Homo sapiens: one gene and its partners. The protein of the gene in region 2 interacts with the protein of the main gene of each other region in a pairwise test. Each region holds a gene or a part of one and is shown on either strand. Other genes may lie near its edges.

What was found.
Region 1: the proteins of CLEC10A (region 2) and CLN6 interact in binary tests that used the Homo sapiens proteins (3 or more experiments, as listed by UniProt).
Region 3: the proteins of CLEC10A (region 2) and VSTM1 interact in binary tests that used the Homo sapiens proteins (3 or more experiments, as listed by UniProt).

Annotation. Positions count from the first base shown.
Region 1 is NC_000015.10:68,222,980-68,226,728, reverse strand, and holds part of CLN6 (ceroid-lipofuscinosis neuronal protein 6), read left to right. Parts: intron 1-3,749.
Region 2 is NC_000017.11:7,078,243-7,081,991, forward strand, and holds the start of CLEC10A (C-type lectin domain family 10 member A), read right to left. Parts: upstream 2,010-3,749; 5' UTR 1,810-2,009; intron 644-1,809; 5' UTR 571-643; coding exon 504-570; intron 1-503. UniProt on the Homo sapiens protein: C-type lectin receptor involved in recognition of N-acetylgalactosamine (GalNAc)-terminated glycans by myeloid antigen presenting cells (APCs).
Region 3 is NC_000019.10:54,062,515-54,066,263, forward strand, and holds the start of VSTM1 (V-set and transmembrane domain-containing protein 1 isoform 1 precursor), read right to left. Parts: upstream 1,384-3,749; 5' UTR 1,264-1,383; coding exon 1,230-1,263; intron 1-1,229.

The DNA of each region.
Region 1 (3,749 bases), on a different chromosome or scaffold from region 2:
CTTTGGGAGGCCGAGATGGGCGGATCAGGAGGTCAGGAGTTCAAGACCAGCCTGACCAACATGGAGAAACCCTGTCTCTACTAAAAATACAAAAATTAGCCAGGCATGGTGTCATGCGCATGTAGTCCCAGCTACTCGGGAGGCTGAGGCAGGAGAATTACTTGAACTCAGGAGGCGGAGGTTGCGGTGGGCCAAGATCGCGCCATTATACTCCAGCCTGGGCAACAAGAGTGAGACTCCGTCTCAAAAAAGAAAAAAAAGGGATAGGATCTACTATTATCTCCATTTTACAAATGAGGACATTAAGGCCCAAGAAGTTAAGTGACTTGCTCAAGATCTGGTTAGTGGCAGAGCTGGGATATGAACCCAAACAGTCTCCAAAGTCCAGACTCTTTTTTTTTTTTTTTTTTGAGATGGAGTCTCACACTGTTACCCAGGCTGGAGTGCAGTGGCATGATCTCAGCTCACTGCAATCTCCGCCTCCCGGGTTCAAGCGATTCTCCTGCCTCAGCCTCCCAAGTAGCTGGGATTACAGGTGCTCGGCACCACGCCCAGCTAATTTTTTGTATTTTTAGTAGAGACGGCGTTTCACCATGTTGGCCAGGCTGGTCTCAAACTTCTGACTTTGTGATTCACCCGCCTCAGCCTCCCAAAGTGCTGGGATTACAGGCCTGAGCCACCGCGCCCAGCCAAGTCCACACTCTTAAAAACTACACTCAACTGCTATTTCTTGGTTTATTTTATTTTATTCTTTTTTTGAGATGGAGTTTCACTCTTGTCCCCTAGGCTAGAGTGCAGTGGTGCCATCTTGGCTCACTGCAACCTCCACCTCCAGAGTTCAAGCAATTCTGCCTCAGCCTCCCGAGTAGCTGGGATTACAGGTGCCCACCATCACGCCCATCTAATTTTTGTATTTTTAGTAGAGATGACGTTTCACCGTGTTGGCCAGGCTGGTCTCTAACTCCTGACCTCAGGTGATCCACCTGCCTTGGCCTCCCAAAGTACTGGGATTACAGGCATGAGCCACTGCGCCCAGCCTTTGATTCCTTTTAGAAAAAAGGAAAAATTTTAAAAATTAGCCATGTGTGACAGCACATGCCTTTCTGTGGTCCCAGCTACTCAGGAGGCTGAGATGGGAGGATTGCTTGAGCCTGGGAGGTCAAGGCTGCAATGAGCCATGACTGTGTCACTGCACTCCAGCCTGGGTGACAGAGCAAGACCTTGTCTCCAAAACTAAAATAAAAAGATGATATTAGTCCCCTACCCTAAACTTTAGCTTTCCTCACCCCTTCCTACAATTTCTGTCCTCTGTTTTCATGTTATCAAAGTAGACTATAATTATCTGCTGCTTTAAAACCGTAATTATCTTCCATGTTTTATCTGTGGATTGACTCTAAACATTGAAAATTAATATAAAATGTGTATGTTATTTAAGCCATGTATTTAATAAATATTGTTCCAACAGAGCCAAATAATGTTTAACAGTTACATTTGCTTTCTTATGTTACTTTTGTTTTTCTTGGAGTTTCTAGTTGCCTTTCTTTATTCTCTCATTATATTTGCCTTCATTTCCTTAGTTTTTTTTCTGTTCAAGCTTTTCATTGTCTTGTATGTCACCATTCTTTAAATAGAAGCAAAATTAGTCTCTCTGTGGTCCCCATTTGTGGGTTACCGCTTGACTTGTTCAGGATGAAACCCCTTCCTTTTCTGCCAGGCAGCCCTGCAGATGCTGCTGACTGCCTTGAGGATTTTAAGTGTATGGCATGCACTCCTCAACTGTCGTGGTGTCATTGTCCCCATATGGTAGACTTGGAAAGCTGGGAAGGAGAGAAGAGTCTAACCTTGTTTCAGGTTATCTGCCATTGTGCCATCACCATTGTTTTCAGCAGCATTTGCTAGTGATTGAGACCTAGCTGGCACAGGCTGGGGGCTCAGTGTGCTAAGTCTGTGGAGCCAGGAACTTGGGACAGGGTTGAGGTTGCTCATCCTCAGGACATGAGCTGGGGGAGAGGATGCCTTTACCATTCCATGATCTGCCTCCCGTGGGCAGAGTTCCAGGAGAAGAAAACCAGGCAGGTGCTGATTAATCTTTTTTTTTTTTTTTTTTTTTGAGACAGAGTCTTTTTGTATTGCCCAGGCAGTGCAGTGGTGCCATCTCAGCTCACTGCAACCTCTGCCTGTGAGGTTCAAGCAATTCTCATGCCTCAGCCTCCCCAGTAGCTGAGATTACAGGTGTGCACCACCATGCTGGGCTAATTTTTGTATTTTTAGTAGAGACGGAGTTTCGTCATGTTGGTCAGGCTGGTCTTGAATGCCTGGCCTCATGTGATCTGCCCAGCTCACCCTCCCAAACTGCTGGGATTACAGGCATGAGCCACTGTGCCCAGTCTAATCTTGATTTGCAAGCTGGTTGCTGAGTGTCCACTCTGTGTGCCTGCTTTTTTTTTTTTTTTTTTTTTTTTTGCAATAAGGTCTTACTCTGTCACCCAGGCTAAAGTGCAGTGGTACGGTCATAGCTCACTGCAGCCTTGACCTCCCAGGCTTAAGTGATCATCCTGTTTCTGCCTCCTGAGTAGCTGGAACTACAGATGTGTGCCACCATACCCAGTTAATTTTTAATTTTTAATTTTTAATTTTTTAGAGTTGTTTTTTGTTGTTGTTGTTGTTGTTGTTGTTTTCTTTTTGAGACAGTTTCACTCTTACTGCCCAGGCTGGAGTGCAATGGCGTGATCCTGGCTCACTGCAACCTCCGCCTCCCAGGTTTAAGTGATTGTCCTGCCTCAGCCTCCCAAGTAGCTGGGATTACAGGCGCACACCACCAAGCCTGGCTAATTTAGTATTTTTATATAGAGACAGGGTTTCACTGTGTTGGCCAGGCTGGTCTCGAACTCCTGACCTCAGGTGATCTGTACACCTCAGCCTCCCAAAATGCTGGGAGTACAGGCATGAGCCACTGGGCCCAGCCCCCCTCTTTTTTTTTTTTTCCTGTCCTACTAAGTTAGGCTGGACTAATGACAGGGATTCTCATTGACCAAGGTGCTTCCTGAGGTGGAGGAGGAGGTAGTCACTGAGCCTCTAGTGTATGCTGGGTACACATAACTTCCAGATACACACATCTAAGTGTTCATGCTTCCAAAATCCCTTTATTCCTCGTACCGAACATCCTACTTTTTGCCAAGTTTGGAGGTATCAGAGCAAGAAACTGAAGGCTGTTACCTCTTTCGCCACCCAAGTTCTCTGGGCCTGGAGGTTATCACTCTCTGCTTTTTGAGGCCTTACCCTGATGGCTACTGAGGAAGGAGCTGGGTGGGGCCTCTGTGTTGGTCACTCGTCTCAGACCACTGAGCAGTCCTCAGGGTTACTGGCTATCTGTCCAGTCTGAAGATCGAGCCGCCCGTCCCTTCTCTTTCTCTGGCTCCAGTAAGCCAGGCATCTCAGCTCCATGCAGAACCTTCTTCACTTCCACCTCCAGGCCTTTACCCTGCTTTCCTGCTTTTCTGCCTAGTTAGATTCATCCATCCGTGCTTTGAGGCTCCCTTCCCTCATGCAAGCTTTGTGTATTGCCCTAGGCCACGCTGATCCTTTTCTTTTTTTTTTTCAGTATTTATTGATCATTCTTGGGTGTTTCTCAGAGAGGGGGATGTGGCAGGGTCATAGGATAATAGTGGAGAGAAGGTCAGCAGATAAACACGTGAACAAAGGTCTCTGGTTTTCCTAGGCAGAGGACCCTGCAGCCTTCCTCAGTGTTT
Region 2 (3,749 bases):
GATTTTGGGGTGGGGGATGCCCAGGCCTTTGACTTCAGGGACCAGCACAAGTCCTCAGTCACACAGGCCCCTCACACCCCTGGGGACCCACGTGATAGCGATATGAGGGGTCCCATGGTCAGAGCTGGGGGCAGGGGCAGGAGGACACAGGGAGAGCTGGGGGCAGCCAGCCCTTCATGGGCTTATGCTCACCTACCTGCTGGACAATCAGGTTCACAAATGAGTTTCCTTCCAAACCCAACTACTTATCTTTCCCTCCACCAATGCGCAGCTCTCATCCCCACCCCACAGAGCATCAGAAGCTGGGTCCACTGTGATCCTCCCTGTCCCAGTCTTTCTAGAGACCTTGCATCCTCTTCACACTAGGCCCGTCAGAGGCTGGGGCCTGACCTCCTCAGAGTTAGGACCCACCAGTGCGCGTGGTGGAGGTACAGAAATGATAGGAGAAATCCTTCTAAACATATAAAGAGGGCATTTTAGGAGAGTTTCCCCTTTCCTCTTACCATTTTTAAACCCCTGGACTTTCACCTTATTCTCCAAGTACTGGAAGTTTTCATACGTCCTTGTCATGCTTGGGCCAACACGGCTCTGAGGTTGTCACAGCTGAAATGGAGGCAGGGCCGGCGCCCAGTCTGGGGTGGAGCTGGGGAATAGGAGGTTGGGACTAAGTTGGAGCCAAGGGCAGGGCTGACGTTGAGTTGGGAGATGAGGCTCAGGTTGAGAATGAGCCCAGGGTTAAGACGGAAATGAGCCTGGGTTTGCAGTCGAGTTAGAATTGGGGTCGAGTTGAGTTTGGGAGTGAAACTGGAGGGTAACGTTGGAGCTAAACGCATTGCTAGGACTACCCAGTGGGCCAGTTAATCAGGCAGGACTGGAGGTTGTATCTCATGCTAGGATTGGGGTCAGTATGCACGTTGGAGCCATGGATGGAATTGGGGTTAACTTTGGTGGTGAATTTGGAAACAGAATAGAGTCGAGGTTCAATTTTGGCTTTGGGCTGGTGTTAAAATTCAAGTTGATTCTGGGGTTGGGGTTGAAGTAGGAGCTGGGTGGGGGGCGACAGGTGCGGTGGCTCACGCCTATAAATCCCAGCACTTTGGGAGACCGAAGCAGACAGATCACTTTAGGTCAGGAGTTTGAGACCGGCCTGGCCAACATGGTGAAACCCCATCTCTACTAAAAATACAAAAATTAGCTGGGTGTGGTGGTGTGCGCCTGTAATCCCAGCTACTTGGGAGGCTGAGGCAGGAGAATCACTTGAACCCAGGAGGCAGAGGTGGCAGTGAGCCGAGGTTGTGCCGTTGCACTCCAGCCTGGACGACACAGTGAGACTCAGTCTCAAAAAAAAAGAAAATGTAGAAGCTGGGGTTAGTATTGGGATTAGGGCATGGCTGGGCTGAGATGAAGATAAGGCTGGAAATGGGCCACCAATGAGGCTGAGTCTGAGTCTTAGTTTATTTTTATTTTTATTTATTTATTTTTTGAGATGGAATTTCGTTCTTGTCGCCCAGGCTGTTGTGCAACGAGGCCGTCTCGGCTCACTGCAACCTCTGCCTCCTGGGTTCACAAGATTCTCCTGCCTCAGCTCCCGGAGTCTTAGTTTATGACAGGGGATTGTGGCTGCCGTAACCCAATCTAGAATCCAGTGAAGGGAACAGAGTCTCAAATCTCCACGTAGTAATTAAACCCCACACTGCCGCCTTATATTTATTTTCATTTAGTCCCACCCAAGACCCAAAGTCCCCCTCTCCCTGCTTCCTCTGACATCCCCTGTCCCCTGGGTCTCACCGGCACCGGCAGCACCATTACCTGTGGGAGGTCTGGAGGGTGTGATTCCCACGTTGGTTGTGCTGCAAGGACCAGAGGTGGGACGTCACTCAGAGTTGGGAGCGCTGTGTCCTGGAGAGCTGGGGTAGAGGTGACTGGAGTCCTGCTGGTCTTGGGTCTGAAATCCCAGGAGCCCTATCATCTGGGACATCCCATCTCCTCAACTTTAGACAGTAAATGAGAATGAACAGGGATTAGAACACACAGAGACCATGTGTGGGTGGGGAGAGTTGGGTTTGAGGCCAGCTCTGTTCTCCTCCTCCAGGCCATGCCTACTTCCTTTCCTCTTCTCGGAGCTTCCTCATTTTTACCATCTGGGAGCAGGGCTGGATCAGAGGTACAATCTGCTGTTGCTCCTCTACCCTACACTTCCTTTCACTTCCTGCCTCTACATTTCCCAGAATTGTTGGGTCTCCATCATCGCACCTCTGATCCTAGAGAAGCCCAGTCTGTTCTCTTGCTCAATCCTGGCCTGAGTCCCTGGCATCAGCATCCTCTGGGTCCCAGTCATTCGGCTGCTCAGCTGTGGCCTCGCTCGCCTCACTCCACTCGGAAGGAGGGAAGGGGGTGCCAGAGAATAGAACTTCTTGGCCCTAATAGGACGGGAGAAGCCAAGGAAAAGAGCAAATTTTATTGAGTAATCTGTGATAGGATTATGCCAGACATTTACCTTCCACAACCATTCCCCCCAAGCACCTGGGGAGGCATTTTGGATGACGGACTAAAGGCTCAGAGCCCAAGATCACTCACAGCTTGTAAGGAGACAGTTTGGCACCCTGCTCTGGCTCTCAGCACAGGCGCTGTCTTCATGAACAGGATTCCATTTCATCCCATGATCCCTGCTCAACCCCTAAGGGAGCTGCCCTGAATCCACGCGCACATCCCTTTCAGTAGGAAGGAAACTGAGTATCTTACAAGGTGGAGAAGGAGAAGAAATACATTTTAGGTTATATTTTGTATGTACATGGGGTTGTGTTCTGCTATGTGCTTTTTTTTTTTTTTTTTGGAGTTAACAAGCTATCAGGAACATTTCTCCACATCAGTTTATAAAATGTACTTGATCTACCTGCACCTCATTTCATCATAGGCACCGTAATTTATTTATTTAGCATTTCTCTATTGACAGAAATAAATCAGAAATTTAAGTTGTTTCTTTTTCTTTTCTTTTTTATTTTATTTATTTATTTATTTTTTTGAGACAGAGTCTCACTCTGTTGCCCAGGCTGGAGTGCAGTGACACAATCTCGGCTACTGCATCTCCTGGGTTTAAGCGATTCTCCTGCCTCAGCCTCCCGAGTAGCCGAGATTACAGGTCCCGCCACCACACCCAGCTAATTCTTGTATTTTTAGTAGAGAGGGGTTTCACCATATTGGCCAGGCTGGTCTTGACCTCCTGACCTCACATGATCTGCCCGCCTCAGCCTCCCAAAGTGCAGGGATTACAGGCGCGAGCCACCGCACCCGGCCAGGTCGTTGCCAGTTTTGTTTTTATTTGGTATTCGGTATTTTGATTAGTATATGTCGCAGGTTCGGTTTTTGGAAGCCAAGGTTGAGGCTGAATTTGGGGTACAAGCTATTTATTAGGGATTAGCACTTCGAAAAGGAAAGTGGATGAAATGGTGCTGGGCAGAGGGAGAAGCCCAGCACTTTGGAGAGCTTCAACCAAACCAACAGGGAGCTCTGGGTTCAAACAATGCCACCCCCGGGAGCTGTCCAGCATTGGACTGCCACAGGGTCCTGTAGAGCACCAGCTCCTTCGGTCACTGGCAGTCAGCCCTGACATGGGTGTGACCTCAGGAAGCAGCTGTCTGCAGGTTACACTCCCCACAGTGGGTCACCACATCCTTCCTAGAAGGGGGACCTGGGTAGCTCTCTGTGTGTCTACCACAGTCTTGCAGTGTATTCACATATTAATTTGGAGA
Region 3 (3,749 bases), on a different chromosome or scaffold from region 2:
GAGTTTGAGACCAGCCTGGCCAACATGGTGAAACCCCATCTCTACTAAAAACACAAAAAATTAGCCAGGCGTGGTGGCGTGTGCCTATAATCCCAGCTTCTCGGGAGGCGGAGGCAGGAGAATCGCTTGAACCCAGGAGGTGGAGGTTGCAGTGAGCTGAGATCACACCACTGCACTCCAGCCTGGGAGACAAAGCAAGACTCTGTCAAAAAAAAAAAAAAATGCTCATCTAAGGTGCAAATGTGTGTAGGAGACGAGCATTACCCCACAAGGAAGGGCTGCACCCAGAAAAGGAGGAAGGAACTGAAGCAGACGAAGCACGTCGATGTCCACCGCACCCCCCGTGCACCAGGGAGGAACTGGGGCCTTAGGGAGGTGGAGCTCTGCTGGGTCAAGCCTAGAGTTTCTATGTAGTAAAGCCGAGATTATAACCCAGGTCATCCGTTTCACAGTGTGAGCTCTGTCTGAATACATCAGGTTCAATTGGAGGATGGTTAAAATCAGCCTAAGAATCGAGCTGGTCAGAAAATTGTCTTCTTGGGGCCAGGTGTGGTGGCTCACGCCTGTAATCCCAGCACTTTGGGAGGCTGAGGCGGGCGGATCACCTGAGGTCAGGGGCTCGAGACCAGCCTGACCAACATGGTGAAACCCCGTCTCTACTTAAAATACAAAAGTCAGCCGGGTGTGGTGGCCTGCACCTGTAGTCCCACCTACTCGGGAGGCTGAGGCAGGAGAATCGCTTGAACCTGGGAGACGGAGGTTGCAGTGAGCCCAGATCACGCCATTGCACTCCAGCCTGGGCTACAGAGTGAGACTCTGTCTCATAAATAAATGCATACATACATAAATAAATAAATAAGAGAGAGAGAGAAGAAAATTGTCTTTTTGCCCACAGCCTTGCACCCTGTAGATCCCTAAGCCCAGCCCTCCTCTATTCCGACGGAGGATGATGGCAGTACTGCGGTATTTAGCGGCTGCAGACTCGGAGACCCCACAGCAGCTCTGCCTTTCCCAGCGGAGTCTGTCCCCGTGTCTCTGCAGCGCGGCCTCCTCCTCGCTTGCATGTGGGCGGCAGAACTCACAGAACCCACAGCCCAGACCCACCCACCGCAGGTGTGCAACACCTGGAAGTCATTACTTCCACACACCGCATTTCCACCTGGACTGCCACTCCCACATGAGTTTTTCTCACCAGCCCAAGCCCATTCGTCCCAGTCCTGGAGACTCACCGAGGCAAAGCAGGGAGAGGAATTCTGCGGTCATAGCGTCCCTTCTGCCAGAACCAAGGCCCCGCCTTGGGTTTTACCCTTCAAAGGCGGAGCGGGACTGGGCCGGCCGCAGCTCTCCGGCTGCCCGGTTCGTCCCCAGGATGTGCAGATAGAGGAGGTTTTGCTCTGACACTCTGGTTCTCTGCCCCACTCTTGCAGTTTCCTTCTCACAACCGACTCAGGAAACAAGAAGCCGTCGATGATAACTTCTTCCCCATGAATCCGGTGTGTGTGGCCCCACCCGCCCGAGCTCTGTCCTACCTTATCTGAAGTTCTGCCAAGAGTTTTCTGTAAATGTAATTTTTTATTTTAAAACACTAATACCGGCCGGACGCGGTGGCTCACGCCTGTAATCCCAGCACCTTGAGAGGCTGAGGCGGGCGGATCACCTGAGGTCGGGAGTTCAAGACCAGCCTGACCAAAATGGAGAAACCCCCGTCTCTACTAAAAATACAAAATTAGCCAGGCATGGTGGCGCATGCCTGTAATCCCAGCTACTCCGGAGGCTGAGACAGGAGAATGGCTTGAACCCAGGAGGCGGAGGTTGCTGTGAGCCAAGATTGTGCCACTGCACTCCAGCCTGGACAACAACGGTGAAACTGTCTCAAACAAGCAAACAAACAAACATTAATACCTATAGCTTTATAGCTTCCGTGTACCCACTAGCCAGCTCCCCACAATGTTAACCTTTTTTTGGGGGGCGGGGGGGACAGAGTCTTGCTCTGTCACCCAGGCTGGAGTGCAGTGGCGCGATCTCGGCTCACTGCAACCTCTGCCTCATGGGTTTAAGGATTCTCCTGCCTCAGACTCCCAAGTAGCTGGGATTACAAGCATGCACCACCACACCCAGCTAATTTTTTGTAGAGATGGGATTTCACCATGTGGGCCAGGCTGGTCTTGAACTCCTGGTCTCTAGTGACCCGCCCACCTCAGCCTCCCAAAGTGCTGGGATTACAGGCATAAGCCACTGTGCCCGGCCAATGGTAATCTCTTATAATTACAGTACTTTTTTTTTTTTTTTTTTTTTTTGAGACAGAATCTCTGTCAGCCAGGCTGGAGTGCAGTGGCACAATCTTGGCTCACTGCAACCTCTGCCTCCCGGGTTCAAGCGATTCTCCTGCCTCAGCCTCCCGAGTTGCCGGGATGACAGGTGTCCGCCACCACTCTTGGCTAATTTTTTTTGTTCTTTTTAGTAGAAACGAGGTTTTGCCATGTTGCCCAGGCTGGTCTCGAACTTCTGACCTCAGGCGATCCGCCTGCCTCGGCCTCCCAAACTGCTGGGATTACAGGCGTGAGCCACCACGCCCGGCGTATGGCACATTTTCAAAACCAGAGACTTTGCACTGGCATCACACGTTTAACCAGGTTCCAGAGGTCACTCAGATCTCACCAGTTTGTGCATAATTCGTTTCTCTTTTTCTCTTCCTCTTCCTTCTATTTCTATTTCCTTTTCTCCTTTTCCTTCTTTTCTCCTGCTCTTCCTCCTCTTCCACCTTCTTTTCCTCCTCCCTTTTCTTTGCCTATGGGTATAGTTCTGTAACATTTTATTGCCTGTATGTATGGCTTTATAGAACCACCGCCACAATCAAGACACAGAACTGTCCCACCACCACGTAGGAACTCCCTCATGCTGCCCCTTTATAATCGCTCTCCCACCCTAGCACCTGCTAATCTGTTCTACGTCTCTATCACTTTGTCACTTTGAGACTCTTGTATAAATGGAATCGTCCATCGCCTCACCTTCTGAGGGTGACCTTTTTCACTCAGCACAATGCCTGTGAGATTCATTCAAATGGTTGTGTGTTATGATGATGGATACATTAGCCGGGCGTGGTGGCACACGCCCATAGTCCCAGCTACTCAGGAGGCTGAGGCAGGAGAATCGCTTGAACCCGGGAGGCGGAGGTTGCAGTGAGCTGAGATCACGCCACTGCACTCCAGCCTGGGTCACAGAGCAAGACTCCATCAAAAAAAAAGAATTATCTAATGGATACAATGTGTGTCACTGGGTTAGTGGATACCTGAAAGCCCTAACTTCATCATTTTGGAATCTATCCATGCAATAAAGTTACACTTGTACCCCATAAACGTATACAAATAAAAAATAATCGTCTGGGCATGATGACTTACCGCTGTAATCCCAGCACTTTGGGAGGCTGAGGCGGGATTACAGGTGTGAGCCACCATGCCCGGCCTATACTTTCTATCTTAATAACTACAAAAATAATAACTTGCTGGATGGGTCCCTGTGCCCACCCCGTCCTGTCCTAAGTGAGGAGGATGGGAAGAAAGCCATCGTCCTGTCCTGGTGCGGCTCTCAAACAGCTGGAAATGCTGGCTGCACAGGAAACTCTAAGGATCGGCAGCTCTAGCGCATGCTACCCTTGGCAGCTGTGTGGTCTGTGGATAGAGAAGGACCAACCTGTGGTTAGTGGAGGAAGAGGAGGAATATTGCTTTGATAAGCACATCCTCAGAGTTAT